Linked DNA regions of Homo sapiens: all the other regions are linked to region 2. Evidence: fine-mapped expression QTL. A gene starts in region 2. Each other region holds a variant in brackets. All regions are shown on one strand. Distances are between the middles of the regions. Region 1 overlaps BSPRY (B-box and SPRY domain containing). Region 2 holds the start of BSPRY (B-box and SPRY domain containing). Region 3 overlaps PRPF4 (pre-mRNA splicing tri-snRNP complex factor PRPF4). Region 4 overlaps WDR31 (WD repeat domain 31).

What was found. PIP is the estimated chance that this variant, and not a neighbour inherited with it, causes the effect. A credible set is the group of variants that fine-mapping cannot tell apart.
Region 1: its variant is the best candidate, but not a certain one, in a credible set for the expression of BSPRY in lung (TOPMed, PIP 0.74).
Region 3: its variant is the best candidate, but not a certain one, in a credible set for the expression of BSPRY in whole blood (INTERVAL, PIP 0.66).
Region 4: its variant is the best candidate, but not a certain one, in a credible set for the expression of BSPRY in anterior cingulate cortex (GTEx, PIP 0.71).

What each region holds. Positions count from the first base shown.
Region 1 is chr9:113,365,374-113,373,478 of GRCh38, forward strand. BSPRY (B-box and SPRY domain containing) reads left to right here. Exons shown (of 6, transcript NM_017688.3): 5 at 2,886-3,010; 6 at 4,243-5,849. The coding sequence ends at 4,769. HDHD3 (haloacid dehalogenase like hydrolase domain containing 3) reads right to left here. Exons shown (of 3, transcript NM_001304509.2): 3 at 8,049-8,105. Among named protein-coding and RNA genes, the nearest start is that of HDHD3, 7.6 kb to the right of the region's middle. RefSeq lists enhancers at 4,045-4,545, 4,546-5,046. The variant G/C (reference allele first, on the strand shown) is at 4,439.
Region 2 is chr9:113,346,191-113,354,295 of GRCh38, forward strand. It overlaps BSPRY (B-box and SPRY domain containing), which reads left to right and starts at 3,351. Exons shown (of 6, transcript NM_017688.3): 1 at 3,351-3,590; 2 at 8,050-8,105. The coding sequence starts at 3,390. RefSeq lists silencers at 3,319-3,388, 3,419-3,698, 6,326-6,375.
Region 3 is chr9:113,283,048-113,291,152 of GRCh38, forward strand. It overlaps PRPF4 (pre-mRNA splicing tri-snRNP complex factor PRPF4), which reads left to right. Exons shown (of 14, transcript NM_001244926.2): 5 at 85-164; 6 at 342-435; 7 at 1,248-1,342; 8 at 3,185-3,243; 9 at 3,658-3,781; 10 at 5,128-5,217; 11 at 7,419-7,541; 12 at 7,653-7,760; 13 at 7,851-7,969. Among named protein-coding and RNA genes, the nearest start is that of PRPF4, 11 kb to the left of the region's middle. The variant A/G (reference allele first, on the strand shown) is at 4,262.
Region 4 is chr9:113,319,196-113,327,300 of GRCh38, forward strand. It overlaps WDR31 (WD repeat domain 31), which reads right to left. Exons shown (of 11, transcript NM_001012361.4): 6 at 3,816-3,960; 7 at 3,616-3,716; 8 at 2,316-2,383; 9 at 1,162-1,303. Among named protein-coding and RNA genes, the nearest start is that of WDR31, 17 kb to the right of the region's middle. The variant A/G (reference allele first, on the strand shown) is at 4,347.

The DNA.
Region 1 (8,105 bases), 19 kb after region 2:
TTTTATTCAGTGCATTATAATCTGTCACTGTTATTACTAATTTTGACATTCAGACTGTCCCAGATTTGGCCTGTAGAAGCCCTTTCAAGCTGGACCCTGTGTCCTTTTGAAAAGTTCCCATCATTCTTTGAGCACTTTCTTGCTCTCTTTCACAAGAAGCACAAGAAGAAAACCCCAGCTCAACTTGTGCTTTTCCTGCCCCTGAATCAGCTGCTTCTCCAGGGCACCTGGTTGTTTTTAGTGGAGAATGATATTTAGAAACCAAGATCTGAGCATTAAGGGTACTCAGTGACCTTGCTTCTAGGCCTCACTCAGCTCACTCAGCATATAGCAGATGGAACTAGGAAGGGAGAAAGAGAAAGAGAGAGAGAGAGAGAGTGTGTGTGTGTGTGTGTAGCTGTTTGATGCATGAGTTTGTGTCACAGCTTCTTTTTTTTTTTTTTTTTTTTGAGATGGAGTCTTACTCTGTCACTTAGGCTGGAGTGCAGTGGCGCAATCTTGCCTCACTGCAACTTCCACCTCCTGGGTCCAAGCGATTCTCCTGCCTCAGCCTGCCAAGTAGCTGGGATTACAGGCATGTGTCACCACACCCAGCTAATTTTTGTAATTTTAGTGGAGACAAGGTTTCACCATATTAGCCAGGCTGGTCTCGAACTCTTGACCTCAAGTGATCCTTCCACCTCAGTCTCCCAAAGTGCTGGGATTACAGGCATAAGCCACCATGCCCAGCCTGTATCACAGATTCTAATTCCAATGTAACACCTCAAGGTTTTTCCTTTGCCCTCTCCCTTTCTACATTTGTACCTTTTGTTATTTTACAGTGAGGACTCCAGCCCCCAACAACATCAGTATTTGCTCAGTCCTACAATACATACAAAGTTGTCCGAGCATTGCTAAGCCCATACTACTATTGAAAGGCCTATCCATAGAGTTCCAGATTTGTCTGTAGTTCTTTATGCCCCCAGGCTGAGCGAATATACTCTCAAAGTAGTGTTCAAAAGTTGTGAAGCCCCATCTAGCCGGAAACTCACTTATCTGAGAAGTGCCTTGTTGGCTCTGGTGTTTCCACGCTTGTAGCTGGGCTCAACTCTGACTGGACACTGCAGCAGATCCTGCCGCACCATCTGGGCATTCTGATCCTGGCCAGGGCCTGCTGTGTTCAGGCCCTTTTTCATTTCCACCCCTTTGGGGCCATGAGTTTTGTCTTCGGTACCATAGGGCAGCTAGCCCGGGTGGTTCGCTGTAGACTTCACTATGTTCAGCCTCACATTTGCCCTGGGATGACAGCTTAGCACCGCTGACATCAGCTCCTCTTTCTTCCCCACCTGTTGGCGGGAGCTCCTGCGTTCTGAGAAGATGGCAATAGACCCTCTGTTGTCCTGACCACAAAGAGCCTTTGTTACTAGAGCTTGCTCCCAGCATTTCTAAGGTTCTGTTCACCTTATACCTCCCAAGACAGAACAGTGACAGTCTTGCAAAGAGCCATCAGGGCACATGCCCCACCCCTGTGCCCACTCCATTTATGCACAGAGCCATGAGATATGGGGAGAGAGTGTGTGTACTCGGAACCACTGCCTGATCTCAACGCCATCTTCAGGATTGGAGGCAGTAGGAAAGGTCTTTCTCAGCACCTAGGTCAAAAGGCTGCAAAGCTCCATGGTAAACCCCTACTTTGCCCTATATTCCTTTGAGATTTCACTTCAGGTCAAGGAAAAAATTATGTTGAATGCTGCCTGGGCTTCATCCCAGTTTTGTTCTATTTTTGCATGGAGGCATGACTTGAATCTAGCTCCCCTTTTTAGCTCTGAATCTGTTCTGTCCTGTTAAATCAGATAACCACTACCTCCCAGGTTATAGCAAAGTTGAGGTATGATTCTGTAGAGAAAACAGCAAACCCAGGCCCTCACTGCTGATACATGGCAGTTTTCAACTCCTAGGCATCATATTGTCCCAAAATACCTCTCCAGCAAAACCCAGCCCCCATTGTGAGCTGAGGGGAGAGTTATTGAGAGCACACAGTGCCATGATTCATTTGTGGCTGGGGTGATAACTGATGGCCCTTTCCTCTGTGGACCCCTCAGGTGTTTGCATTTTTAAAGTAGAGGAGTGGCTGTACCTTCTGACAAAACCCAGGGAAACATGACTGCCCCAACAGGTCTGAGAGGGAGGTGAGATATTTTCCAGGCAAGGGCAAGATGTTGGAGTAGAAAGACTATCGTGCAGGGGTTCCAGAGGCCCAGGAGGTCTTAGCCCCAGCTCTGCCATTAACTTACTGAGGGACTCTGGCAAGTTGCTTCCTCTGCAGAGCACACCACCTTCAATTTCTAATACTGGCACCAAGAACACATCTTCCTATAAACTGTCCACCAGCTTTGCTAAAATTAAGGCTTCTGGGGGGCACAGGGGAAATGGCCACCTTCCCTTTTGGCCCAAGCACCTGTGTGGGGCCTGGATGCCACTCTTTTTTTTTTTTTTGAGACAGGGTCTCACTCTGTCACCCAGGCTGGAGTGCAGTGGCATGATCTTGGCTCACTGCAGCCTCGAACTCCTGGGCTTAAGCAATCTTCCCACCTCAGCCTCCCAGGTAGCTGGGACTACAGGTGCATGCCACCACACCCAGCTAATTTTTAAATTTTTTGTAGAGATGGAGTCTTATTATGTTGCCCATGCTGGTCTCAAACTCCTGGGCTCAAGTGATCCTCTCCCACATCAGGCCTTCCAAAGTGCTAGGGTCACAGGGGTGAGCCACTGCACCTGGCCCTAGCTGCCAATCTTGGTATCGCCTGATAGGAGATTTTACTTCTGTTCTTCTCTTCACCCCATATTGATCCAGATATATTTCCAGAACCATCCTGAATCTCTGTCTCTGTTTTTCCCCATATAAGGACCGAAGAAGCAGAGGGCATTTTGGATCCCCAGGAGTCGGAAATGTTAAACTTTAATGAGAAGTGCACTCGGAGCCCACTACTGACCCAACTCTGGGCAACGGCGGTTCTTGGGTCTCTCTCAGGTTAGGAGCAGTAGAGCCCAGGACCATTAGGACAACTGGGCTTCTGTCTGTCTGTCTGGGGTTCACTCCTGGTTCACAATGGGGACCCGTGCTTCTGAGATGATAGCTTAAACAAGTCATGCTGGATGCAGGCTGGTCAGTAGGGTCAAGGTTCCAGACAGGCCTGGGGCAGCTGGGCCAAGTCCTTCCCATTTCCGGACTAACATGTTCTGTGGTTGGGTCAAAGATAAATCTCATTCCTATAAGTCATGTCTTCCTTATATCCTGACCTACTAGGGCAGCCCAGTATTATTTATTGGAAACCTGGGGTTTCTCTTTAAGAAGATAAAATTGATGGCCAACTGAAGAACATCTGGACCAAGAATCAAACTGCCTGATTTGCCTCACTTATTCACTTTACACACACTGACTCAGGCCAACTGTGGGCCCCACCCTGTGCCACATGCTGGGGCCACAGAGGTAAACTGACATGGTCTTCTGCCTCCAGGAATTCCCATTTAGCACAGAGGTTCTCCAGAGCAGGCCTCCTCCAAGTTAGATGGAAGCTTCCATTCTCCCAATGGTAGTCTTTCACAATTCGTGGAACAGTTAGGTTAATAGACTGATTTTTTTTTTTTTTCAGTTTTAATCCTCCCTCCTCGTATTATCCTTACAATTTTGGTAGAAGCTGTAGCTTCTCTACTCTAGATTCTGGTATCAAATGATGCCTGATTTACCAGCAGTTTAGATATTTGCTAGAAATTGCTTATCTCATGCTTCCTAGCTCCCAGAGGCTGTGTTTCTAGGACACGTCCAATCTGGAGGCCACAGATATGACCAAGTAGAAAGAGTATAATCAGTGCTACGTATAGGAACAAAATGTTTTGTCTTCATTTTGCCCCTCCCACCAAGTCAGTGTGTAAACTTGGGCAACTCCCTTTTTCTCTCTGGGCCTTATTTCTATCAGAGTTTACAGTTGAGGGTCTTGACTGATAGTAACTATTGTTATGAAGGCTACAGTTTATAGAGCACTTACATGCTGGGCACTTTACATGTATGATTCTGTTTAATTCTCGTGATCACCCAGTGAGAAGTCCTATTTTGACCCCCGTTTTGCAGACAAGGCTCAGAGAGAGTAAATGGCTTATATGAGGTCACCATGCTAGTGAGTGGTGAGGAACCTTTTGCTACCTGGCAGGACCAGGTTAGGGCAGGGGTGGGCCCTCGGCAACTCTGAGAATTCTTTCTGGCAGGCACAGAGGACATACGGATCGATGAGAGGACAGTCAGCCCCTTCCTGCAATTGTCAGATGATCGAAAGACCCTGACCTTCAGCACCAAGAAGTCAAAGGCCTGTGCAGATGGCCCGGAGCGCTTCGACCACTGGCCCAATGCCCTGGCTGCCACCTCCTTCCAGAATGGGCTCCATGCCTGGATGGTGAATGTCCA[G/C]AACAGTTGTGCCTATAAGGTGGGCGTGGCTTCAGGCCACCTGCCCCGCAAGGGTTCTGGCAGTGACTGCCGTCTGGGCCACAATGCCTTCTCCTGGGTCTTCTCTCGCTATGATCAGGAGTTTCGTTTCTCACACAATGGGCAGCACGAGCCCCTGGGGCTGCTGCGGGGCCCAGCCCAGCTGGGTGTAGTGCTGGACTTGCAGGTTCAGGAGCTGCTCTTCTATGAGCCAGCCTCCGGCACAGTGCTCTGTGCCCATCATGTGTCCTTCCCGGGGCCCCTCTTCCCAGTCTTTGCTGTGGCCGATCAGACCATTTCTATCGTCCGCTGACCTCTGGCCACAGGAAGCCAGGTCCACCGCCCACCACCCTTTCAGGCCATGTTTCTACTCAGTGTGCTTTTCCCAAATGATGTGTGTGGTGTTTCTAAGAGAAACAGGGCCCATAACCAGTGGGCAGCTTTAGGAGGGATGGGGATCTGTTTCAGATCTAGGCATAACCTGTAAATCACAGGTGTCCAAACTTTTGGCTTCCCTGGGCCACATTTGAAGAAGAATTTTCTTGGGCCACATAAAATACACTAACGATAGCTGATGAGCTAAAAAAAAAAAAAAAGTCTGTGTATAATTTTTGTGATATCTGCCACCACAGATAAGCAAAAAAGTCCTTGCATTCAAAGGGTTGGAGATTGCTGCTTTGAGTGCTGGGTACCTGTGGGGAACCTACTACTCCCTGGGCCTTAGTCTCCCAAATCCACCATGCATCTGCCCCTCTGAGGGTGTCTTCACTTTGTCTCTGGCATCTAGCATGGTGCCTGGTGCATAGTGAGCATGCAATAAATATTTGGCAGGTGAGTGGATGGATAGATGGATAGGTGAATGTAGGTGGACAGGTGACTGGGTGGATGTTGTGGTCTCTGGAGAAGCACTGCCATTCAGCCTCCTGCTCCAGCTGTTCACATGCAGAAATGCTCTCTTCACAGGCAGAGAAGCCTGTGGCTAAAGTTTCCACATCCCATTAACTCAGTGCTTTTGTCTTTTTCATGACATGGCACATAGAGAAAATATTTTTTTCTAGCACACAAGAGCAACCTGAAAGGCTGCTCCTGGCCAGAGGACTCTGTCCCGGGGGACCGTGTCCTCCCCCATGTCCTGCCTAGGCCCTCAGAGGACCAGGGGATCATGTCTCCAGGTAACCCGACTGTAGCCCCTGCTGGCTGAGCTCCAGCCTGTGCCCACTGATAATAGCAGGGACGGCCTTTTCTCTTAGAGCAGCTGATAAGTTTCCCTACCTGATGGCCCCCTCTGACATAAACTGCACACCTGGGGTGATGGCTTAAAGCCAGAAAGAGCTGAGGGAGTTAAGAGGGCCAACCTTAGGGCACGTGGGCATTATTAAAGGTCTTAAAAGCATTGAAGATTTATTCCATGTTCTTTGTTGATAATTGGGTGTATACTGTACGCTGGCCTGTCTTCATACCCTTATTGCATTCTCGGAAATAAGTGGGTCGCAGCTCAGTGTAGCGGAAAGAGCCTGGAGACATTACCAAGACCCAAGGCAAGTCCCTTTATGTTTGTCTCCATGAGGAGTTCACCCTAGAACAGTGGTCTTCAAACTTTTGTCCAGGAACTCTCTTCAAAAGTAATCTTACCTACAACTTTAGGCTCCTGCGTCCAAAGAAGATGAAAGGCAGAGCCCTCCCCACTTTCTTTGGGAGCTGCAGAGCAGTTTGAAAACCACTGTTTATTAATTTTTTTTTTGAGACAGAGTCTCAAAGGGATGCTGAGGCAGGTGGATCACCTGAGGTCAGGAGTTTGAGACCAGCCTGGCCAATGTGGTGAAACCCCATCTCTACTAAAAATACAAAAAATTAGCTGGGCATAATGGTGCACACCTGTGATCTCAGCCACTCGGGATACTGAGGCAGGAGAATTGCTTGAACCTGGGAGGCGGAGGTTGCAGTGAGCCGAGATCGCAACACTGCACTCTAGCCTGGGCAACAGAGCGAGACTCCATCTCAAAAAAAAAAAAAACAACGAAATTACTGTTGCCTGGCCTTGGTGCCAGTCCCAAGGAAAACAGACCAAAAGGGGTTTGGTCAAGTCCCAAAGAGATCTTCCCTGCCTTTGCCTGGGCACAGCCCCTGCTCAAAAATCTGGGTCAAAGCCAAGGCTTTTCTTGGCACCTGAAGGCCCCCATGCCATTTTCTCCCAATCCACCAACCCAGCTCCTCACAGCAGCCTTCATTCCACAGTTCATCGGCCTGCTGCAGCAATGTCCTCCTCATCCCCCTGCTCATCTAAAGCCACCCCCAATGCCACTACTGAATTCAGCATCCATTCTAGAGCCCTCCCTAGCTGCTGGCACCAGAACACACTGCCAGCCTGTGTTTTTAATGTGTGGTATCCTCTGGCACTGGGCAAGGAACACAGATGTCCAGCAAATACCAAGTAGAACGGTGTGGGAAGGTGGGGAGGCAGGAGAACTTTTTGTTGTTTTGTTTTTAGAGACAGGGTTTCACTCTGTTGCCCAGGCTGAAGTGCAGTGGCACGTAGCTTACTGTAACAGAACTTGTGGGCTCAAGCGATCCTCCTGCCTCAGTCTTCCGAGTGGCTGGGATTAAATGTGTGTGCCAGCACACCAGGCTAGTTTTTACATTTTTTGAAGAGATGGGGTTTCACCATGTTGCCCAGGCTAGTCTCGAACTCTGGGCTCAAGTGATCCTCCTGCCTCAGCCTCCTAAAGTGAAAAAAGGAATTGAAAAACCCAACCTACTTCAACCTCCAGTTCTTCCCCCCTCCCTCCAAACCTATTCCCTACACTGCAGTCCTTGTTCCCCATACTTTCCTACCTCCACACTGGTCTCTGCGACTGGGGTGCCCTTTGAGATTGATATTCTTTAGGACACCTCCCCTATTCTCCCAGAATCTCCACTGTACCACGTTTCACATGACAAGCATCCTCATCTACTTACAACCTAGTGGTCAAGCCAATGGGCTTTGGATTCAGATGTGCCTAAATGGAATCCTGGTGTCTTTGCATGCTAGCTGTGACCTCGGGCAGGCTGCTTAACCTCTGAATTTCAGTTTCCTCATTTGTAAAGTTGTGGAGGGGGTCAAACCACCTAGGCCCAACGAGGTAGCTTTGAGGGTTATATGTGCATGGAGGTAACTCAGCACCTTACCTAACACGGGGCAGGCATATGTCAACAGGATTTCTTCTCATGACTGTCATGGGGTTCCTTGTTTAAATTCTCCCCTTCATACTATGTGGTGCTAATGGACAGTGTCCCTACAGAATGGCTTAGCATCCTGCTTTTCAAACTAAGCACTGACCCCAGGCTTCCAGAGGGTATTTTCAGAAGCTGAAAGAGAGACCTTAGCACCTCTGCTTCAACTCCAGCAGTTTTTCAGGGTCTGTTTTTAGTTTTGCATAATGGGGTTTCAGATCGCCCATAACTAAAGGACTCTGCTGCTAAAACCAAGTTTGAAAGTGCCTGGTTTTGAAGCTAGTGGGGCCCTCTGTGAATCCTTTGGATGTGAAGTCGACTCCTAGTGGAAAAGGGACACAGGTGTGAATGAGAATGAGGGAGGGCAGAGGCTAGGAGCTGGTTAGTGGGGGAAGGGTGAGAGCTCAGCACTCACTGCTTTATTATCACAGTAGGTGAC
Region 2 (8,105 bases):
CGCCTGGTTAGTTTTTGTATCTTTAGTAGAGACGGAGTTTCACCATGTTGGCCAAGCTGGTCTCGAACTCCTGACCTCAGGTGATCCACCTTCCTCAGCCTCCCAAAATGCTGAGATTACAGGCGTGAGCCATTGTGCCCAGCCTTTTCTTTCTTTTTATAAAAGATGCTGATCTCCACCCCTTGAATTTCTTGATATGCCACCTAATAAAGGGTTGCCACTGCCTTAGGGCAGTGTTTCTAGAAACAGTCAAGGGGCTCCTTTGCATCCTAGTCAAGGAGTGACTGCCACAGATGCAGCTTCTTGGCTTCATCCCAGACTTAATGGATGAAAATCTTACCGGAAAGTCTGCGTGTTTTACAACTCCTCCTCTTTCCCCTCCTGACCATCCCCTGTCCTCCAACGATTCCGAAGCCTGATAAAGCTTAAGAGCTATAACCGGGGAGTTTATGAGTATCCCAGATGTGTCCTGCAGGGCTTGATGAACAGATAGGGAAAGGGCGATTCTCCAGTTCCAGTCCAACTTGGCTCATAAGTGGTGAAACAGAGGAACCCGACTTGATAAAAGTAAATCTACTCCTACCTTAGCCCTTTGCATTTGCTGATGCCACTACCTGAAAGTAATTCTGGTGATTTAGGGGCTGTTTTCCAGATCCTGGACCTGGTAGGGCCAATGACTGCTCTAGGGCCACACCCAGTGAAGGCCCCCCTCCCCCCCCCCCACCTTTCCCTAAGGATTTTAACCCTTGTTCCTCCCCCTGCCCTCCACAACCTCTTTTCTTTCTTTTCTTTTCTTTTCTTTCTTTCTTTCTTTTTTTTTTTTTTTGAAACAGAGTGTTGCTCTGTTGTCCAGGCTGGAGTGCAGTGGCGCGATCTCAGCTCACTGCAACCTCCACCTCCTGGGTTCAAGCGATTCTCATGCCTCAGCCTCCCCAGCAGCTAGGATTACAGGTGTGCACCACCATGCCCGGCTAATTTTTGTGCTTTTAGTAGAGACGGGGTTTCACCATGATGGCCAGACTGGTCTCGAACTCCTCAAGTGATCCGCCTGCCTCAGCCTTCCAAAGTGCTGGGATTACAGGCATGAGCCACTGCTCCTGGCCACACAACCTCTTTTCTTTTTAGCCTTCACACAAAAAGCACCTCCTATTTTCTTTGTTTTCACCATAGGGTTTAATAATTCCCCATCCCCAGTCCTTAGAAGGAAAAAATTCTAACCACAATCTCTAATTACCATGGCCTATTTCCCTCCCCACCCCCAGAGGAGTGTAGATGCTGTTATGAGGCCATCACCCTCCCACTGGGATGCACTGGAAACTTCTTTAGATGCCAGGAAAGCAGCACCCCTGTCGCCAAAGAACCTCACACAATTTACATTCTGAAACCTGCTACAACTGTATTTACAGATCCTCACACATATAATAAAACCTTTTATTATCCCCTACTGTATATCAGACACCCAAAGTAAATACTTTGTAGACAAGATCTCATTTCATTCTTGAAGTAGCCCTCTAAGGTAGATGATAGTATTATTATCACCTCTGTTGTAGAGATAAGAAAACAGACACAGAAGCTGTGAGTAACCTGACCAAGATCCCATAGCTGTAAGCTGCATAGCTGGGATGAAACCAATGACTATATTTCACTCAGTGTTCTCTCTAATCATATGGTGTAATATTGTCTATCTGGGGTGACAATGTGTCCCCATTGGATGATGACACCACTGTGTACCGCTCTGGGTAGCTCTGGGGCTGTTAGCTGCCCTTACCCCTCAGGTGCTAAAGCAGTAGTGGCTGAGAAGGAAAGGGTTCTATCTCCTTTGTGTGGCCATTGCTTAGAGAAGCTTCAGAGTAGAGGTGCTAGAGCCCCTGTGAGCTATGGGATGTAATGTTTCTCTTTCGGTTTAGCTCCCGCCTGTGTTCAGTTCTGATGCACTCAGAGTACTCTCTGACACCTGAAGGCCTGGGCCCTTCCCCTTTTGAGAGAGTGCCCAGCTTTCTGCCAAGACTCCTAAGAAAGAATTTGGGGTTGGTGGCCGGGCGCGGTGGCTCACACCTGTAATCCCAGCACTTTGGGAGGCTGAAGGGGGGAGATGGCTTGAGCCCAGGAGTTTGAGATCAGCCTGGGCAACATGGCAAAACCCTGTCTCTACGAAAAATACAAAACTTAGCTGGGCACGGTGGCATGTGCCTGTAGTCCCAGCTACTCAGGAGGCTGAGGTGGGAGGATCACTTGAGCTGGGGAGGTCGAGGCTGCAGTGAGCTATGATTACACCACTGCACTCCAGCCAGGGTGACACAGTGAGACCCTATCTCAAAAAAATAAAAAAAAATAAAAAAAAAAAAGAAGAAGAAGAATTTAGAGCTGGAGAGCAGCGTTCTCCTTGTATGCCCAGACAGACTAGACTGGATCCCCAGCAGAGGGCTCAATCTGGGCTCAGACTAATATATAAGATCCTGAGGGTGGGAAAAGCCCTAAACAGCTCAGGAACATGTTAGCAGTTTTTCTTTCTGGGGTGGGAGTGGGTGGATTTTTCTTCCACATGCTTATTTGCATATTTTGTTTTCTTCGAAATAAAAAGGCATTACTTTTTTTCAATGCTAGTTTAAAAAGAAAACTCAAATATTCAAATTCAAAAAGTTTGGATGTAAATACTTTGGGAAAATCAGCCTAATACAGATATTTCTCACTGGGCCTCAATGTTCAATTTAAAAAATTATTAATTATAGTAACCTTAAGTCACACTGCCTAGGTTCCAATCTCATAGCTACCAATTAGTAACTGTGACCCTTGGCAAGCCACTTAACTTCCATAAAAATGGGATCCTAATAGTACTTTCCTCGCACTGTTAGTAGACACTTAGCGATTGCAGCTGCTATGTTCCAGATATTGTTTTACGTATTTAGCGTATTTACTCCTCAGACGTCTGGGAGGCAGGTACTCTCACCCCATTTTACAGCTGGAGTTCCCACCCAGTGAGCAGCCAAACGGGATTTGAACCAGGCAGTTTCTCAGCAGAGCCTTGCTTGAAGCTAGGCATCTAAAGCTGCCTCTCAAAAAGGGCAGTGGTCGGGATTACATAACAGAACGCTTGCAAAGCTCTCAGCGAAAGCCTGGCACTTAATAAGTGCTCAATAAAGTTTCCTACGGTCACAGTAATATTTGGAGTTTTATGTTTGTTGTAGAACAAATACGCATACAATCGCGATTTCATTCAACAAGGAATTTAAAGAGACCTGCTGCCCCGGGCGGGATGGGAGCGCGGGTTGGGTGGGAGGAGGCGCAGCTGCGGGGCGCGCTGGCGCACCGGGAGGGCCGGGGGCGGGGTCAGCCAGGCCCCGCCCGCCGCCACCTGCGACAGGTGGAGCGCACGGGGCGGGCGCACGGCCATGTCCGCCGAGGGCGCGGAGCCGGGGCCGGGGTCCGGGTCCGGGCCCGGGCCGGGGCCACTCTGCCCCGAACACGGCCAGGCTCTGAGCTGGTTCTGCGGCTCCGAGCGACGGCCCGTGTGCGCCGCCTGCGCGGGGTTGGGCGGTCGCTGCCGGGGGCACCGCATCCGCCGGGCGGAGGAGCGCGCCGAGGAGCTGCGGGTGAGCGGGTGTGGGCGCCGGAAGGCGAGGGCTCCGGAGACCCCGGGCGCGCCTGGCGGGACCCGGCAGGGACTGGGGAGCCTGGGGCTGGGCGGACTCGACACCCGGCCCCGGAGCCTAGGCTCCTCGGTGGCTTTGGCTGTAGGACTAGGCGGTTAAGGGTGTGGCCTCTGAAGTCAGGCTGGCCTGAGTTCGAATCTACTCCCTGTGAGTCACGTAACTCTGAGCCTCAGTGTCTTCATCTGTAGTTTGGGGACAACAACAATAATAATAGCGCGTATTTATTAGAGTTGTGAGAAATAAATAAGATAGTGGGTAAAATGCTTAGCGATAAGGGGATCCAGGCTCCCCAGGCCCCTTCCATTGCTCTGTTGAGGAAGCTGGGGCTGGCATGAAAGGCTCAGCTGCTCCAGTTCTCAGCGCAGGGTGTGCCCCAGCTCCCGCCCCTGTGGAAACTGACACTGATAAAATCCAGCGCGACCGTATCCCTTAACCCCTGGACTCAAAGCCCCCCTCCTCCTTTCGCCTCTTCCCCCTGCTCCTAACCCCTTCTGGCTTCTGGTGCGGTGATCTCTTTTTCGCTTTCAGGATTGGCCTTGACTGTACTTCAGGCTGGTTTAAGGGCTTCAGCTGGATAAACGGTGGGGGTAGGGAGAATATCAGGGGATTCCCCTTCACCCAGGCTTTCTCGCCACCTCCACTTCCAGCTCGGCTCCAGGGTGGCCACCTCCTTGTCATCACCATTCTCCTGAGCTGCTGAGATTGGGAGAGTCGAAGTCACCTTGGGCTTCTCTGTGGCCCCTGGGGATTTCCTTGCAATTTGATTAAACAGCTTGTTTCTCCCAACCCGACTCTGCAGTTCACCCCTGCTGTGAAGCCTGAGGGCTCTGGCTGGGGACTTCGCCTACCCAGAGTGACCTGTAATAAACACATCTTATATAGGGTGCTGGGCTCGGGAGGGGTTCAGTTTTTCAGCAACACCCAAAAGCTCCTGGTTCGTCCTACCTGTTACCTCTATCAACAATAATGATGACAAAAATAAACCTGGATAACGCGGTGTAATCAACTTGCATAATGGACAAAAAAATTTGCAAACTCCAAAGTACTTAAATGTCTGTCATCTCATTCTGTCTTGACCACGCCTTTGAAGGGGTCCTACCTACATTTTACAGATGAGGCACTGGAGGCTCGGAACAAGGCAGTAACTCCTCCAAGCTTCCTAATGTTCAGGGGTGGGACCCAGGGAGTCATTGACTAGGCAAGAGGAAACTGCTGCTTTGCTTCGGCGGTTGGAGGGAGGAAGTGATGCTAATGGGGGTGAGAATGTCATGGAAACCTTAAAAGTAGCTATCAGGACTGGATTTGAGTGGTGGAAAGAGTGAAGCCTCGGGCAGGTGGCAGGCCTGGTGCTAGTTTCGGTACTACCCTAGGGAACCTTCTTTGAACCCCTCTGAGGCCGTATGCATATTTATCTCCTTTGCCTGAAGGGAGGTGGGTCTTACCCTCTCTTCCACCAAATTAGAGTAGATTTCTGTCTTTTGCACATTCCTTCCTCTATCCATCCAGTCAGCAAATAAATCTCACCCTAGGGCAAGATTATTACCAAAACCAGCACCAGTTCTACTGCTCTCCTACCTCTGGATTCCTGCCCTGTGGTTTTTCAGAAGCCTTCTCAGTGCTCTTAGTCCATGGTGCATGGTGATCACAGCTTCCTCCTAGTCAACTCAATTCTGTAACTTTGTATTTGGACCTATGAAATGTAACTAATTTCTACTTCTGGGTGGAAAGATTTACAAGGGCTTCCTGGAAGAGGTAGCTAAGTTGCCTTTTGGCAGATGGAACTGAGGCAGAACTCTTAGGGGGAACAGTGGAGGGACTGCTGCTTGGATAGGCTCTAGGTATCACCTGGAGAAACGGAGAGCAAAAGCAGGGCCCTGGCCCATACCTTCTTGGGGAAGTCACTTCTCTTTGGGCCTCAGCTTTCCCGTTTCTTTCTCTTTCCTTTTTTTTTAAAATTTATTTACTTATATTTATTTATTTTTGAGACAGTCTCACTCTGTCACCCAGGCTGGAGTGTGGAGTGCAGTGGTGCTATTTCAGCTCACTGCAACCTCTGCTTCCTAGATTCAAGAGATTCTCCCACCTCAGCCTCCCGAGTAGCTGGGACTACAGGCGCATGCCACTACGCCTGGCTAATTTTTGTATTTTTTGGTAGAGATGGGGTTTCACCACGTTGGCCAGGCTGGTCTCGAACTCCTGATCTCAGGTGATCCGCCCACCTCAGCCTCCCAAAGTGTTGGGATTACAGGTGTGAGCCACCGTGCCCGGCCAGCTTTCCCATTTCTAAAACTCCCCTGAGCTCATGGATGATGCTCATAGCTTTGAGAGCCATGAACTGCTGAACCTCTTGTGGTCAAGGCAGTGGGTGTTCGTTCATTCAACAAATATTTATTCAGGGCCTTCTATGTTCAGAAACTCTCTTTGAGGTACTAGGACATAGAGAAGTCAGACTTATGGTGCTTCTGTTCCAGTGGTGGGGGAGACAGATACCCAAAAAGGTAAACAAACACATAATATATAGTCAGAGAGTTATAAGTGCAAGGGAGAAAAATAAAGCAAAGTAAGAGATTGGGTGAGGAGGGAGATGGTCAGGGAAGACCTCTCTGAAGAGATGACATCTGAATGCAGTTGGGGAGTGAGACACACACACACACACACACACAGACTGGTGGAAACGGAACTGCAGGTGCAAAGGCACTGAAGTCAGGACAAGTTTGGTACATTTAAGGAACAGAAAGAAGGCCAGCATGGATAGAGGTAGAAAGTGATGTTGGAGAAATAAGCTGAGTCACATCAGGTGGGGCTAGGTTGGCTAAGCTAAGAAGCCTGATGTCATTGTGAGTGTACTGAAAGCCATTGGAGGGTTTTGAGTAGGGGCATGACCTGGTCTGATTTCCTTACAAAAGGTGGCTCTGGCTAGCTGGGGGGTTGGGGGTGCAGGGTACCCAGTTAAGAGGTTCTAACAGTGGTTCCTGTGAGAGATCATGGCAACCTGGATAGAATAACTGGAGTAGAGGTGACCAGAGGAGAGAGAGAGACTTTGGAGATGGGGTTGATAGGACTCACTAATGGAATTGATGTGGGGTTGGAGACAAACTCCTGGGTTTTTGGTCTGGGTAACAGGTGAATGATTGATGGTGCTGCTTAATGAATGAGGATAACTTGGCAGAGAGCAGTTCTGGACAGAACAGAAGGTATGGACAGTCAGGCAGCTGAGTATGACGGAGGACCAAGAGTGTGTGCGCCAGAAAGTGGTTATAACGGGCTGAGCGTGGTGGCTCACACCTGTAACATCCCAGCACTTTGGGGGGCTGAGGCGGGAGGATTGCTTGAGCCCAGGAGTTGGAGACCAACCTATGCAACATGGCAAAAGTCCATCTCTACAAAAAATGCAAAAAGTAGCCAGGTGTGGTGGCACGTGCCTGTAGTTCTAGCTACTCAGGAAGGACATGGGAGGATCACTTGAGCCTGGAAGGTCAAGGCTGCAGTGAGTCTTGATCATGCCACTGCACTCAGCCTGGACGACAAGCAAGACTCTATCTCAAAATAAATACATAAATAAATTTAAAAAGAAACAAACGCCTGGGTGCGGTGGCTCACACCTGTAATCCCAGCACTTTGAGAGGTCAGGGCGGGCAGATCACCTGAGGTCTGGAGTTCGAAACCAGCCTGGCCAACATGGTGAAACCCTGTCTCTACTAAAAATACAAAAATTAGCTGGGTGTGGTGACACACACCTGTAATCCCAGCTACTTGGGAGGCTGAAGCAGGAGAATCGCTTGAACCTGGGAGGTGGAAGTTGCAGTGAGCCGAGATCGCACCACTGCACTCCAGCCTGGGCAACCGAGTGAGACTCTGCCTCAAAAAATAAATAAATAAAAAAAAATAAAAATAAACACAAGACAAAATGGACTTTAAGGCAAACATAGTACTAAAGATAAAGTCACTTAGAGAATGTGCAGTTCACCAGCAACATATAATGATTCTAATCTTAAATGTTTCTAAATAATATAGCCTGAGAATATTCATAGAGCAAAAATTTGTTTTAAAGTTATTATAATGATAGGCTGGGGTTCTGGGATGAAGACGGAGGTGAGGTCACAGAAGGGGATGATGGACAGTGAAAGGTAGTCCCACTAGTGTGTTGGTGGCCTCAACTGAGCTGTTGCTGGAATAGGTATCCTAGAATTAGGGAGTGAGAAGGATAGGGCATGGTGGGGAGAGTGTGGATCCTTGAAATGGAGATTTAGGAGGTGGTACAGTTTTTGATAATGATGAGATCTGGGCTATGACCATGGGAGTGGGTGGCTGACATGTGGTAACAGGAGAAAATCACTGGGATGGAGTGAATGGCTCAGGTACATGGACCAAGATGCCACAAGCGTTGTTTGTGTTGCAGAACAAGATTGTGGACCAGTGTGAGAGGCTGCAGTTACAGAGTGCTGCCATCACCAA
Region 3 (8,105 bases), 63 kb before region 2:
GGGCAGTTAAAATGGAGAAATGACAGTTATAAGAGGAGTAGAATGCTTCAGATTTGACCTTTCTGCTCTTAATTTGCCTTTCAGTATCAGCAAACCTGGTATCATGAAGGACCAAATAGCTTGAAGGTGGCAAGACTATGGATTGCTAATTATTCGTTGCCCAGGTAAAGAGAGCCTCCAGTAGAAGAAAGAAGCATATTTTTTGTGTGTGTTTCCTCTCAGGAACTGAGTGCTGGATAATGACTATGGTTGTTAAATGAAATTGAGGGGTAGAGTAGGGATACATGTGGGTCCTTGTTTACAACCCTGTTGCTCCTGGTGATGGTGTTTCTGTGTCGCAGGGCAATGAAACGCTTGGAAGAGGCCCGACTCCATAAGGAGATTCCTGAGACAACAAGGACCTCCCAGATGCAAGAGCTGCACAAGTCTCTCCGGGTAAGATGCTCCCAGCAATTGTCCCACATCTTAAAGGTTCTTCATGTTTATTTGATTTTTCTACTTTGGCTCACCTCTGGGAAGGTAGAGGCAACTAGAGTGATTCCTCCCTGCTTAAGTTGAGCTGCTGTGACATGGAAGGAGCCATCAGTTAATGTGGCAGGAGCTTACTGTGCTTTGTATTCAGCAGAGGCCTATGGTTCTATTCTTTATTTCTCCCCGTTAATATGTCAGAGTTTCTCTGGGGTTTTCTGTTTATATTTAGCTGACTCAGAAGTTGTGATCCTAAGACTGTAGAAAACATCTGGGCACAGTGGCTCAGTCCTGTAATCCCAGCATTTTGGGAGGCAGAGGCAGGCGGATGACTTGAGCCTCAGGAGTTTGAGACCAGCCTGGTCAACATGGTGAAACCCTGTCTCTACTAAAAATACAAAAATTTGCCAGGTGTGATAGCATGTGCCTATAATCCCAGGTACTTGGGAGGCTGAGACGGGAGGATTGCTTGAACCCGGGAGGCGGAGGTTGCAGTGAGCCAAGATCACGCCACTACACTCCACCCTGGGCAACACAGCAAGACTCTGTCTCAAAAAAAAAAAAAAAAAAAGACTATAGAAAACAGCATGCTGGAGTTTCATATAACTTCATTTATCAATGTATGTGTCTTCTAACAGCAGCAACAAAACCATAGAAGAATCTTGGGATGGGTTAAAACTGAAAAGCTGCTTTGTTGTTCTTTTTATGGTGGAAAAGCAAAGGAGCTCTTAGATTAACCTATTAATGATCACCGTGTGTGTATTTTTTTTCTTTTTAAGTCTTTGAATAATTTTTGCAGTCAGATTGGGGATGATCGGCCTATCTCCTACTGTCACTTTAGTCCCAATTCCAAGATGCTGGCCACAGCTTGTTGGTAAGTTCCATTTTACAATGACATTTTTTCCTAAATGGGGAACAGGCTCAGGAAGAAAATTAGCATTTGCGTTAGACGTCTATTTCTACGTCCTCTTTCTCTGCTTCTCATGATCACACCAAACTACAGATGTCAGTCAGTGCTCTACCTGTTGTATAATACAATGTAGCCTTGGTTTAGCCGTTCTCGCTCTTCACCAGTGACCCCAGAGATCCATTACACAAAGCACTCTGTCACATTCTTGACACTAGTATTTTGGAACAGGTCCTGTAGTGAGTTTATAGACCAACTAGTATCCATAACTCAGTCTGGCTTTTCTTTTTCAGTTATGTGACCTCGCTAAGATACTTAATTTCTGTAAGCTTCAGTGTTCTTACCTGTAAAGTGGGATGAGGTAGTGTTTGCAAGGCATTTTGCCTTGACAGTGCCTGGTATGTAGTAAGGACTCGTTAAACGTTAATTATTGGTTTATCTTTGTTTTATTTTCTTATCACCACATATGCAGAAAACTCAGGATGTGGTAACTTTGTTGTTTTGTTTGAGTTTGGTTGTGTTTTTCTGTGGGACATGGCTATCTAATGAGAAAGGAAACTTAGATTGAATACACAGGAGCTACTTGACTAGGCTGACCTTTAGATGGGTTCAGGAGAAAGCCAAGGTTCTGCACAAATGAGTCCACCTCTCCAAGCCTCATTACCTTCACTATAAAGTTTGATCGTTCCTGCCGTACCTGCTTCACAGGTCTGTTAGAAAGATCATCCGAGATAATAGATATAAAAGTAATTTGTTGAAAAATTTCCAAAATAAGAAGTCTCTAAAAAGTTTAAGGCCAGCCAGCCATGGTGGCTCACACTTGTAATCCCAGCACTTTGGAAGGCCACGGCAGGAGGATCACTTGAGCCCAGGAGTTTGAGACCAGGCTGGGCAACAATAGTGAGACCCTGTCTCTACAAATTTTTTTTTTTTTTTTTTTTTTTTTTTTTTTTTTTTTTTTTTTTTTTTTTTTTGAGACGGAGTGTCACACTTTCGGCCAGGCTGGAGTGCAGTGGCGCGATCTCGGCTCACTGCAAGCTCCACCTCCTGGGTTCACGCCATTCTCCTACCTCAGCCTCCCAAGTAGCTGGGACTACAGGCACCCGCCACCGCACCCAGCTAATTTTTTGTATTTTTAGTAGAGACAGGGTTTCACCGTGTTAGCCAGGATGGGCTCGATCTCCTGACCTTGTGATCTGCCCGCCTTGGCCTCCCAAAGTGCTGGGATTACAGGTGTGAGCCACAGCGCCTGGCCCAAAAAATTTTTAAAAATTTATTTAATTTTTTAAAACGTTAGCCAGGTGTGGTGGCATGCGCCTGTTAGTCCCAGCTACTCAGGAGGCTGGGTGATAGAATTGCTTGAGCCTGGGAGGTTGAGGCTGCAGTGAACTGTGATCACACTACTGCACTCCAGCCTAGGTGACAGAGTGACACTGTTTCTCAAAAAAAAAATTTAAATACTTTGTAATCAGCAAAATACTATTCATATTTAAGGACAGTATCACTATTAATATTCGTATTATTGGATAGTTTAATTTGCCCCACCTTCCCTCACAAGTGGATCCAAAAGTTAAGGAGAATGGCTACTGGTGTAGTGTTAATTATAGTCCAGTAAAAGCCTCTGGTTGCGTGTGGGCTGGAGGTAGCTTTTTCTTCTATAACCCTTCTAACTATAAGGCTTTTATTTTTCTGTCAGCCATTGTAAAGTTTATTGGGGGTGAGAAGAGATTGTCCTTTAGTAATATTACCAAGGTACCTTTTCCTTCCCAGACCAACCCTGGCTGAGATGCTTTCCTTTGTATTTGATAGGAGTGGGCTTTGCAAGCTCTGGTCTGTTCCTGATTGCAACCTCCTTCACACTCTTCGAGGTAAGTTAGAGTCTTATCCAAATCTCGGTCTTTTTCCCAGTGTGAACTCAGTTAAGCCTTAAACTCTGCTTGACACTCAGACCCCATACACACAGCATTAATCCTTGATTTGATTTGACTTGGTTTTCTCTGGCTGCAAGACTGGACTATCACAACTTCCTACACATCCACTTTTCTCTCATGTGCAGTCACACTCTGGCATTTTATAATCTCTAAACCAAAAACCAAAATGGGTTTTTTTGTGTTTTGCTTTTTTAAAAATGTAATTTAAATATTAGCTTAAATTAAAATAGTTCATGTTTTAATAGTTGAATAGTCACTTGAATACTCTGTATGTCCACATGTTCCCTAGTATATAACATGGGTTATAAAGAGGCAGGAACCTTTTAACTTGCATCTCTTACACTCCTTTAGGGCATAACACAAATGTAGGAGCAATTGTATTCCATCCCAAATCCACTGTCTCCTTGGACCCAAAAGATGTCAACCTGGCCTCTTGTGCGGCTGATGGCTCTGTGAAGCTTTGGAGTCTCGACAGGTGAATATCACTGTTCTGTGGCCCATACTGCCATCACTAAAGTAGATGTTTGATTGGTTGGTCCCCAGGACCTCAGTAAAAATCTGGCATTTAGGCCATGCGCAGTGGCTCACACCTTAAGGCTGAGGCAGGAGAATTGCTTAAACCCGGGAAATGGAGGTTGTGGTGAGCCGAGATTGCACACTGCACTCCAGCTTGGGTGACAGAGCAAGACTCCGTCTTGAAAGAACAAAAAAAAAAATCTGGCATTTAACCCCCAAGATGGTTTAAGAGTCAAGGTAACCTAGTGTGAAAATGAAGTAAGTGGAAGATTTCATTCTTAGGCCTTTTCTTACTAAAGGAGTTATGTCCGTTTTTTCTTACCTGTTAACTTTGGATCTTGATTTTTGTCTATAGCCTAGTGACCACTATTTCCTAGCTCCATTTATTCCAGAAAGATCCAGCCTACCTCCTACATGATAAATTAACAATGAACTAAAT[A/G]TAATATTCTTGGCAGTTCGTTGGTTCTTAGCAAACAGCCACAGGGGAGAGGAAAGTGAGGTTCTGTCTAGCAGTATTACCACGGAGATGTCTCCTCGCAATAGCATCATCCTTTACCTAGAATGTATTTTCCAACTACAACAGTTTTTAAAAATGTGTTTATGTGATTGTTTTCCAAAAAAAAAAAAACTTCGGAAGCACCCTGTTGGCCAAAAGGCATCTGAATTTAATTGTTTAGTTTTCTTTCTTTGGGAAAACACATGAAGGTTTTTACTTGAGAATTTTTATGAGAGCTAATTAATGTCTTCACTCCTCACCAGACAGGGTCTCACTTAGGAGCGCAGTGAGTTTTAATTGGCTTTGGTAATACTTAGCAATGTTTATTCCCCTTGGGCTTTGGCTTGTTCTGTGTATGCACATTGACAAAGTTCCCTTTTTAATTGCGTTCCTTAGAGTTCATGTTTATTTCCTTTTGCTGATGTTCAGATCTTTTGGTGGTTGCTGGGTAGCAGAATTTAATGGCCACCAAAAGGAGACTAAGCCTCATCTCTATTTAGGAGTTCCTTTTTCATTTGGATCTTGGAACAGGCCTAAATTTGAAAAAGGTTTATCTGTAATCCACTTGTACCAAAACTATGTGATTTCTGTGTCCTTATATCTCTTCCAAAGCATGTTTTCTTTCTAGAATCCAGGTACTCCTTTGGTGCAGAATGACTATTTTGCTTATTGGGCCAAAGTAGTTTACAAGTGTAGTTACAATTTAGCCTCTCGTGTTGTACAGAATGGGTATGTCTGCACAGAAGGTAAGCAGTTTTGTGACTATTTATATGTCTATAAAATTGTTTATATGTTTGGTTCCTTTCCAGTGATGAACCAGTGGCAGATATTGAAGGCCATACAGTGCGTGTGGCGCGGGTAATGTGGCATCCTTCAGGACGTTTCCTGGGCACCACCTGGTGAGCCATCCTGTTATTGTTTTATCCATATAGGCCTGTAGCATCTTCTTAACCCTTTATGGCTATCTGCCAGGTAAATTTTTAGAGCAGAGATCTTCAGGTAGGATTTTCTTGGGCTGCAGGGAATTGGAATCAGAGGAGAATGTTTAATATAGTGAGAGCTAAGTATATTTGCCTTTTTTTTTTTTTTGAGGTGGAGTCTCACTCTGTCACCCAGGCTGGAGTGCAGTGGCGCGATCTCGGCTCACTGCAACCGCCGTCTCCCGGGTTCAAGCAATTCTCCTGCCTCGACCTCCCGAGTAGCTGGGACTACAGGCGCGTGCCACCATGCCCAGCTAATTTTTTTATTTTTAGTAGAGACAGGGTTTCACCATGTTGGCCAGGCTGGTCTTAAACTCCTGACCTCAGGTGATCTTCCCGCCTCAGCCTCCCAAAGTGCTGGGATTATAGATAACAGGTAACGCGCCCAGCCATATTTGCCTTTAAATTACAATTAATCTGAAATTTCAGAGTTACAAATTACCAGAAAACAAGGATTTTCACTCTTGTCCAATGCTACAGGTATATAAGTCTCCCTTCCTGGTTCTGTAAGTTCAGGGAGGCTAGAATCTGTTAGAGAACTTTTCCATTAAGTTATAATTTACATACAATGGAATGGATTTATTTTAAGTGTACAATGCTGTCAGTCTTTACAAACGCGTACCATTCCTGTGATCGACACCTCTGTCAATATAGAGAATAGTCCATCACCCCAGAAAGGTCCCTCATGCCCTTTTCCAGCCAACTCCCCCTTCTAAAGCAACTGCTGATCTGACTTCTATCACCACAAATTAATTATGTCTATTCATACTGTGAATTCATTTGTGGCAGGCTTCTTTCAGCATAACATTGTTAAGAGTCATTCATGTTGTTGCATGTATCAGTAATTCCTTTTTATTGCTGGGGGTTATTCATTTTTATGACTGTGCCATAGTTTATCCATTCTCCTGTTGATGGACACTTGGGCTGTTTCCAGGTCTGGGCCAGTCAGAATGAAGCTGCTATAAATATTCTTGTACCAGGCTTTTTGTGGACATGAGTACAATTGCTGGGTCATAGGGTAGAGGTATGAGATGTATATTTAACTTTTTCTAAACTCCCCACCAGTTTTCCAAAGCGGTTACACCATTTTACATTCCCGGAGTTCTGGTTACTTCACATCCCTGTTAACATTTGGTGTTGTCAGTCTTACCATTTTGCCCAATCTAGCAGGTGTGTAGTGATCTCCCGTGATTTTCATTCTTATTACCCTGATCATTATTGCTCTTGAGTGCTCTGTCATATGCTTTGCCTGGTTTTTTAAATTGTGTTTGTCTCTTTTGTCTTTATTTCCATGTGCATAGTCAGTTATACCACCTTGTATTGAAGAGACTTTCCTTTCTCTGTTGGAATTGTTTCAGTACCCTTGTTGAAAATCATCTGACCATATATGTGTGGTTATTTCTGTACTTCCTATTCTCTTCCATTGATCTATTTGTGTATGAGTGATTTTTGTATCCCCAACATCCAATTTAGGGCCTAGTAAATGTATAAATGCTTGATGAATGAAAGAATATAACAGTGGAGGAAGAAAGAAGGTAACAGAGTCTTTGCTGGGCCATTCTTGGGGAATCCTGTTATTACAATAGCCACTAGGTTGGGCATGGTGGCTCACACCTATAATCCCAGCACTTTGGAAGACCACGGTGGGTGGATCACCTGAGCTCAGGAGTTCGAGACCAGCCTGGCCAACATAGTGAAGCCCCATCTCTATGAAAAATACAAAAATTAGCTGGGCATGGTGGCGCACACCTGTAGTCCCAGCTACTCAGAAGGCTGAGGCAGGAGAATGGCTTGAACCCGGGAGGTGGAGGTTGCAGTGAGCCAAGATTGCGCCACTGTGCTCCAGGCTGGGCAACAGAGTGAGACTCTGTCTCAAAAGAAGAAAAAAAAAAAAGCCCTAGAGGTTTACAGCGATTCCATGGTTTTCAGCTAGCACCTAAGGCAGATAAGCTTAGTTGTTGAGTCATTGTTTATGTCAGAAAGGAGCTTCCTGTTAATATGGTTATATGAATAGTTTCAGAAGCATTAATAACTTAAGCTATAATGGCTTAGAATACTTTATGTGTTGTAGAAACTGAATAAATATCAGCTGGTTGATTGTTAGTGTGATTTGGTTTTAGCTATGACCGTTCATGGCGCTTATGGGATTTGGAGGCTCAAGAGGAGATCCTGCATCAGGAAGGCCATAGCATGGGTGTGTATGACATTGCCTTCCATCAAGATGGCTCTTTGGCTGGCACTGGGTAAGGCTTCTCCCATGTAGTCAGGGGCAGTTCAGTACTCTCACCTCTTACCTATACCTGCTTCCACAGAGAACTGGATTCAAAGTGTTCATTTCTAAATTATTTTCTCAGGGGACTGGATGCATTTGGTCGAGTTTGGGACCTACGCACAGGACGTTGTATCATGTTCTTAGAAGGCCACCTGAAAGAAATCTATGGAATAAATTTCTCCCCCAATGGGTAAAATAAACACACTGAATGAGGGGCGAAAAAGGGTTCTGGGTCAGTAAGTACTCTATTTCTAACTTCAATACTGCATCCAATCCACAGCTATCACATTGCAACCGGCAGTGGTGACAACACCTGCAAAGTGTGGGACCTCCGACAGCGGCGTTGCGTCTACACCATCCCTGCTCATCAGAACTTAGTGACTGGTGTCAAGTTTGAGCGTAAGCTTTCCTCCTATTTTACGTCTAAATGACACAGACAAACAGTATTGTGTTCCCGTGGAATGCAGGCCAGGCTTTAGCTTAACTGAGCAGTAAAACAGGAGAGAAATTGACCTACTGGTAAAGGAGCAAATTA
Region 4 (8,105 bases), 27 kb before region 2:
ACTCTCATTGATACAGATCAGATCACAGCTGGAGAATAATGTTCAGGGAGGAGAGCAAATTGAATTATGTCCAAAAAGATAATGAAGTTATTGGACAGCATGTTATCCAGGGAATAGCTGTAGGAGCTGGAAATGTTTCACTTAGAAAAGAGATGCTACATTCAAAGGCTGCAACACCCCAATCTACCATTTACTAGGGATGTGGTCTTGTGCAAGAGATGTCAACTTGCCATGCCTCTATTTCCTTGTCTGTGAAATGGGAATTATAATAGTACCTAACTCATGGGGTTGTTTTTAAGGATTAAATGAGATATTACATGTAATGTGCTCATCCCAGTGCCCAGCACACAAGAAATGTTCAATAAAATAGGAGGCATAATTGTTCTGTTTGAATACTAGATAACCCTTTTAATGGATATTCTACAATTATGAATCTAAGGTGCTTTGGAGGAGCCTAGGCAATCTATTCCAAAATTAAATGTAAGGAAGGTACATGAGTAAGGGATGGAGTAGGCCCTGGACCAACACTAGAGCTCCAAATTTCCTAAAAAGCTTGAGCTTCTTTTACTGTGGCCACGCCTATAATGGGAATAAATCTGGTTCTTCAAACAGTCCCTCCCCTCTCTAAGCTCTGCTGGGAGTAGAGACATCAGCAGGCTGGTTCTGTGTTTAGCTCCTCCCCATCTTGACTCTCATCCCATTCCTCTTTCCTACTACCAATTCAGAGAGCCCTAAGTTGATGAATGTTTCTTTTATTTTCTTTCTTTATTTTTTTGAGATGGGGTCTCCCTTGTTGCCCAGGCTGGCCTCAAACTCCTAGGCTCAGTTGATCCTCCCACCTCAGCCTCTGAATAGCTTGGACTACAGGCACATGCCACCATGCCCAGCTAACTTTTTATTTTTTTATAGAGACAGGGTCTTGCTCTGTTGCCCAAGCTAGTCTCAAACTCCTGGGCTCAATTAATCCTCCCGCCTTGGCCTCCCCTATGAATGTTTCTTAAATGAAGCAACTGGAATGCAAAGGATCACTCACAGTATGCTTTTGAAAGAGGCCTGAGCCATTAGCAAAGCCCGCCTGTGTAGCACAGCTACAGGCATGAGGCCAGAGTAAGTGATCTGTTCATCAGCAACCAGATACCTGGACCTCACACAGTCTCCTACCGTGGCTTCACAGCCTTCTCCTCCAAAGCCATTGCTGCAGGAGATACACTTGTGTCCATCCACACTGACTTCACAGTAGGTCTGAATGTGCTGCTTTGCAGGAAACATATGAGCTACCTGCAGCCCCCGACTGTCCCATAATCTGAAAGAGATTAGGGCAGGAAATTAGCTTGTAGTAAATGTGGCTGAAATACACCCGTATTGTCCCACTACCAAAAAAGTCTTGGCTCTTTGCTGCATAGGCCAGTCAGATTGGAATGGCATGATTTACCTAAAAACGGCAGCATGAACCAGATCAATCTCTGAGACTCTAAAGTTGGCAGGAAGTAACCAAATTGAATGACATCTGAGTTCTTTCTATTTTGAGATCAGTTAATAGAAATTGAGACCAAGCATCTTAATTGTACAAGTTAATTTGTTAATTTGGTCCTTTGAGACACTGCTTTCCGTGGACAAAAGGATATTTCTGTGCCTGTGACTTAAATTTTTAAAAAGATACTTATTATGATATGGGAAATCAGTCATCATTCAGAATTAGTTACAAAAGATTTACATACAGGTCATGGCCAGCCTTGGCTATGGGGTCCACTGGGGAGTGTTTTGTTTTGCTTCTTATTTCATTTTTACCTCTTTACCCCATTCCTACCATTTTCTAAGGAGAATCTCTTCTGAGATCCAAAGTTTCTAGTTATCCTCTCCGGTCTAAGAACTATTGGCTTTACTGACTCCCCTGATGCTGATTTCAACCCTGCTTCCCCAGGGAGGGCTTCAGCTGAAGGCTGGGTGACTGAGAACACCAGGAGCCATGCAGGGGTAGCAAGGAGAGCCAGGCAGCCCAACAGGGTGGGACAAGCAAGTGACTGATTCTGGGGTTAATCTGAACACCTTCACACAGCAGGAGCTGGCTGAATCAGATGCTTTGGAACCATCCAAAACAGGGGCTTTTACTTGGCCTGATCTCATGACACACAACCTCTACCTTAATGATCCATGGGGCCAAAGCAGAGAGGCCCCAGCACCAGTGAAGGGCAGAGGAACAGAAGGCTCTGGGAAGGGCAGAGCAATGTGGAGAATCAGAGTGGGAATGGAGCCATGTATGCATGGGAGCCACAAACCTCACAAGAAACACTTTCACAGCTGCTCAGTAAGCCCACCTGAGGGTTTTATCTTCAGAGGTCTGTAGTATGTATGGTTCTCTGGGGACCCAGCACAGGTGAGTGACCTAGAAAAAGCAAAATGTTCAGAACTTCTCCACACCAAGTCATTCCTCTGCTGTAATTCCTGTCAAATGTGCTAACTAGCATCACTGTGCCTCTTCTCAAGGATTCTGAACTAGCAAATTCATTTACAGGCATCTTAGGTTTTGCAGATACCTATCAGTCATGCTCTACCTGCATCTCCTAGGTTATCAGCAGCAAGATAACAGCTGGGCCAGTTGTGAGCACCAAAATACATGCAGGCACCCTAAGAGTGCCTGAAACCCCAGCTGTGTGGCAGATAGAACAGCTCCTGTTGTAAGGTGGGTTCACTGAAACTCTAGCCCCAACACCTCATGGGGATCAGGAAGAGCATTCATGTTTCTCTTTATCCCTGCAGGTCCCTGCTGGATAGGCATAAAATAGTTTCCAAAATAACCCGAAATAACAGGATTTTCTTTTCTTCCAGTAACCTCCACCAATATAGAGGGCATGGGGCAAGCATATCTGACCATTGGCAGTCATCTTCAAAATTAGAAAAGATGACTGGGACTGAAATTTGACAACCACTAAAAGAACATCTAGTATGGGTCAGACACAATGTCAGGTATTTCACATCTAGTATCTGAATTCATCCTCTGAAGAACCTTAGCAGGTGATAGAATTCTCCCCATTTTATAAATGAAGACACAGACACTCTAAGAGCTTAAGTAACTTCCTTGAGATAACATAACTGGTAAGTAATAGATCCATGATTTTAACCTGAGTATAACTGACTCCAAAGGCTCTCCAATTTATACCAGTCTGCTACTAGAAAACAACTGGTCCTTCAAAAGCAATGCAAATTCTACATAAAGCAAAAGGTAATGCTTATTTCTCCACATGATGTTACACATATGAACATACAATAAGCATAAGCTGTGAGGTCCTGGAAGACAGGAACTATGTTCTTGGTCACTAACCCTGTTCCTAGCACAGTGTCTGGCCCACAGAAGAAACAGAATAATGAAAGAAATAATGAAGACACCATTTTAAATTCCAATATAAGTGAGTAAAATCATTGTCTGGAGCAGAAGACTCAAGGGAACATCTAATCTAATAACCCTGAGAGGCCAGGGTCTCACAGCAGGTTAGGGGACAGCAATTGGGACCCAGGCTCTAATTTCTGCTCATGGGCCTCCTGATTTATCTCCCGAGCCTTTCCTTCACCCCATGCTCCTTTCTGCTGCCCTGTTCTGTACCAAGTTTGAGTTCATACCACGTTCCTGGAGACAGATGCTCTTTCCACACTCTGTCCTGTCACCACATCCCACAGAAGCAGGGTGTTGTCCCGAGAGCCAGTGCACAGCTGTGATGAGTCTTTGGAAACAATGGTGAGAAGACAGCCTGTGAGTGGGGACCTGAACGGGGCTTTTCAGAAAGCACAAAGGCATTGGGAAGAGGTCCGCTTTGTTTTACCTGGACTCACAGCCAATCCGGTGACCACCATGGCATGGCCACACAATTGCTGCCTTGGTTGTGAGGAACCGTGCAAGTCCCACATCATGACCATCCTGTCACGAGAGGCACTGAAGAACTGGCTGGATTTGGGAATACAGGCTACCTGCTCAGGGAAAAAACAACAACACTGAAATAGCTCTGGTATGCTAGTTGGACTGGACTTTAAATTGGGGGAAAGATGAGTCTGCATAACTCCCTCCCCACACACACTTCTTTTCTTTTTTTTTGAGACGGAGTCTCACTTTGTCACCCAGGCTGGAGGGCAGTGGTGTGATCTCAGCTCACTGCAACCTCCACCTCCTGGGTTCAAGCGATTCTCCTGCCTCAGCCTCCCGGGTGGCTGGGATTACAGGCACCAGCCACCACGCCCAGCTAATTTTTGCATTTTTAGTAGAGACAGGGTTTCACCATGTTGGCCAGGCTGGTCTCCAACTCGTGACCTCAGGTGAGCCACCCACCTCGGCCTCCCAAAGTACTGGGATTACAGGC[A/G]TGAGCCACTGTGCCCGGCCCCCACACACACTTCTCAAAAGAGTAATACCTAAGCTTGAAATCTATGAATGCACAGCATGGGCCAGTCTGAATTTCCACCTTTATCAATGTTGTGCTACCTTTCCTTTATGTAGCAGATTTCCTCCTGTCCTTCAGGGTAAGGTTAAAAATCTCACCTCCTCAGATCATGTCACCTTGGTGAGGATGTATCCCCTCTTGGGCTTCCTATAGAACTTCCTCCTGTGGGATTCCTTTTGCACTTGATCATCACCACACCCCAAAAATGGATGCTGTACTGTTATGACAGGTGATTCTGTTATACTTACGAAGAATTTGAAGTGAATCTCTGTTCCATTTTATGCTTTTTACCTTGAATACAACTTTGCTTGATATTATTATCATCCCAACTCCTGCTCTGTTTGTTTACATTTGCCTGATATATCTTTGCTGACCTACTCTTCCTGTTCTGATCTCTTCCATCGTGTTTCTTTTTTTTTGGAATTGTGGTAAATATACATAAAACTTACCATTTTAACCATTTTTAAGTGTACAACTCAGTGGCAACAAGTACATTCATTGTTGTGTAACCATCACCACTATCATCTCTAGAACTTTTTCATCATCCCAAACTGAAACTCTACAACCTTTAAACAATTACTCTCCATTTTCCTCTCCCCGCAGCCGCTGGCACCCACCATTATTCTACTTTCTGTCTCTATGGACTTGACTATTCTAGGTACCTCAAATAAGCAGAATCATACCATATTTGTCCTTTTGTGTCCGGCTCTTACTTAGCATAATGTTTTCAGGGTTCAGCCATGTTGTAACATGTATCAGAATTTCATTCCTTTTTTTTTTTTTTTTTTGAGACAGGGTCTTGCTCTGTCACCCAGACTGCAGTGCAGGGACCTGGTCTCGGTTCACTGCAACCTTCCCTTCCCGGGCTCAAGCAATCCACTTGCCTCAGCCTCCTGAATAGCTGGGACTATAAGTGTGCGCCACCATACCTGACTAATTTTTGTATTTTCTGTAGAGACAGGGTTTTGCCATGTTGCTCAGGCTGGCCTCGAACTCCCGGGCTCAAGTGATCTACCTGCCTGGGCCTCCCACAATGCTGGGTTTACAAGCACGAGCCACTGTGCTTGGCCTATTTCATTCCTTTTTAAGGCTGAAAAATAGCCCACTGTATGTATATTACCGCATTTTGTTTATCCATGAATCTGTCAAAGGACATTTGGGTTGTTTCCAGCTTTTGGCTATTATAAACAATGCTGCTATATATATATATGTGTGTGTGTGTGTGTGTGTGTGTGTGTGTGTGTGTGTGTGTGTACAAATATCTGTTCTATATTTACTAACTGTTTTACTTTCAATCTTAAAGCTGTTTTGCATTAGATATGTCTTATTTTTTATTTATTTATTGAGACACAGTCTCACTCTGTCGCCCAGGCTGGAGTGCAATGGTGTGATCTCTGCTCACTGCAACCTCTGCCTCCCAGGTTCAAGCGATTCTCCTGTCTCAGCCTCCTGCATAGCTGGGATTACAGGTGTGTGCCACCATGCCTGGCTAATTCTTTTTTTTTTTTAATTTTTAGTAGACATGGAGTTTTGCCATGTTGGCCAGGCTGGTCTTGAACTCCTGACCTCAAGTGATCCACCCGCCTTGGCCTCCTAAACTGCTGGGATTACAGGCATGAGCCATCGTGCCCAGCCTAGATATGTCTCTTTTAAACAATGTACAGGTGGCTTTAGTTTTTAACTCAGTAAGAGTACTGCCTTTCAATAAGTGAATTTATCCCAATTACATTTACTGCTATCATATATATGTTTGATCTTGTTCCTTCCATCTTTTCTGTTGGTTTTTGAAAAACACTTTGTCATATTTTCATTGTCTTCTTTTTCTATAAAATTGTATATTTGTTTTTAGAGTTATTTTTCCCTTTATATTTTTAATTTAAATAATATGGAACTTAAGTTCTTCTCATGATACCTCTGTATATGTATTAATATCCTTAAACTCATATTCTCAATGTATTAATTTCAGAAAGAAAACAGAATCTCCTGTAAGGAAAATTTTTTTTTTCTTTAATTAGCACAATTATATTACTTCTGGCTCGTTCCCACTTTTGTAAGTACTCTCTTGGATTTTTATCTAGTCTATTATCATATTATTAATATTTTGTATTTTATACATATAAATTTTTAAAAGAATTAAAACAATTACATTTCTTCTCATAGCCCTCGTTTTGACAATTCTTTAGACATAATTCTGTGTTTAATTGGATTGAAGGCTCATACAGTGAATTCAGTTTGGAACTTCTTTAATATTCATTGGCTTTATTATTCATCATTCATTCACATTCTTTATTTTTTATTTTTTATTTTTTGAGATGGAGTTTCCCTCTTGTTGCCCAGGCTGGAGTGCAATGGTGTGATCTCAGCTCACCACAACCTCTGCCTCCTGGGTTCAAGTGATTCTCCTGCCTCAGCCTCTCGAGTAGCTGGGTTTACAGGCATGCGCCACCACACCTGGCTAATTTTTTATTTTTAGTAGAGACGGGGTTTCTCCATGTTGGTCAGGCTGGTCTTGAATTCCTGACCTCAGGTGATCTGCCCGCCTTGGCCTCCCAAAATGCTGGGATTACAGGCGTGAGCCACCGCACCCGGCCCATTCACATTCTTTAATAATATACCTTCAACTATATTATTGAGGAATGCTTTGCATATGGCAAGATTTTACAAATTTAAGAATGTCTTCCCATTGCCTTTACACATGAACAACACTCTCCGCACATACAGATTCTTTTTCTTTCTTCCTTTCCTTTCCTTTCTTTCTTTCTCTTTCTTTTCTTTCTTTCCTTCTTTCCGTCCTTCTTTCTTTCTTTTTCTTTTTCTCTCTTCTTTCTCTCTCTCTCTCTTTCCTCCCTCCTTCTTTCTTTCTTTCTGACTGGGTCTCGCTATGTCACCCAGGCTGGGGTGCAATGGCACAACTATAGCTCACTGCAGCCTCCATCTCCCTGGCTTAAACGATCCTCTTGCCTTAGCCTCCCAAGTAGCTTTGACTATAGGTATGCACCACTATGACCACCGAATATATTTGTATTTTTATTTATAGTAGAGACAGGTCTTGCTATGTTGCCCAGGCTGGTCTTGAACTCCTGAGCTCAAGCAATCCTCCTACCTCAGCTTCCCAAAGTGTTGGGATTTTAGGAATGAGCTACCCTGCCTGGCCAATTTTTACTTTTTAATAATATTTTTTCCTCAAATATTTTCTCTCCCAGATAATTCTTCTATTGTCTTACTTTTTTTTTTGAGACTAAGATCTTGCTCTGTCGCCAAGGCTGGATGCAGTGAAATCATCACAGCTCACTATGGCTTCAACCTCATGGACTCAAGTGATCCTTCCACATCAGCTTCCTGAGTAGCTGGGACTATAGGTGCGCACAACTACATCCAACTAATTTTTTAATTTTTTGTGGAGATGGGGTCTCATTATGTTGCCCAGGCTGGTCTCAAATTCTTGGGCTCAAGCAATCCTCCTGCCTTGCCTTGCCAAAGTGCCAGCATTACAGGCATGAGCCACTGCACCTGGCTTGTCTTATTTTTTCAATTTCTTGTTTCATAGAGTACATGTTCTCTTAATTTATAGAGAGTAAAAAGCATTAATCAAATTTTATCTTTGCTTCTTGAGTAGTTCTTCCTTCAAAGTGTATTTTCATCTGACATTAGCTTGTTATATGTATATTTAAAAAAATCTAG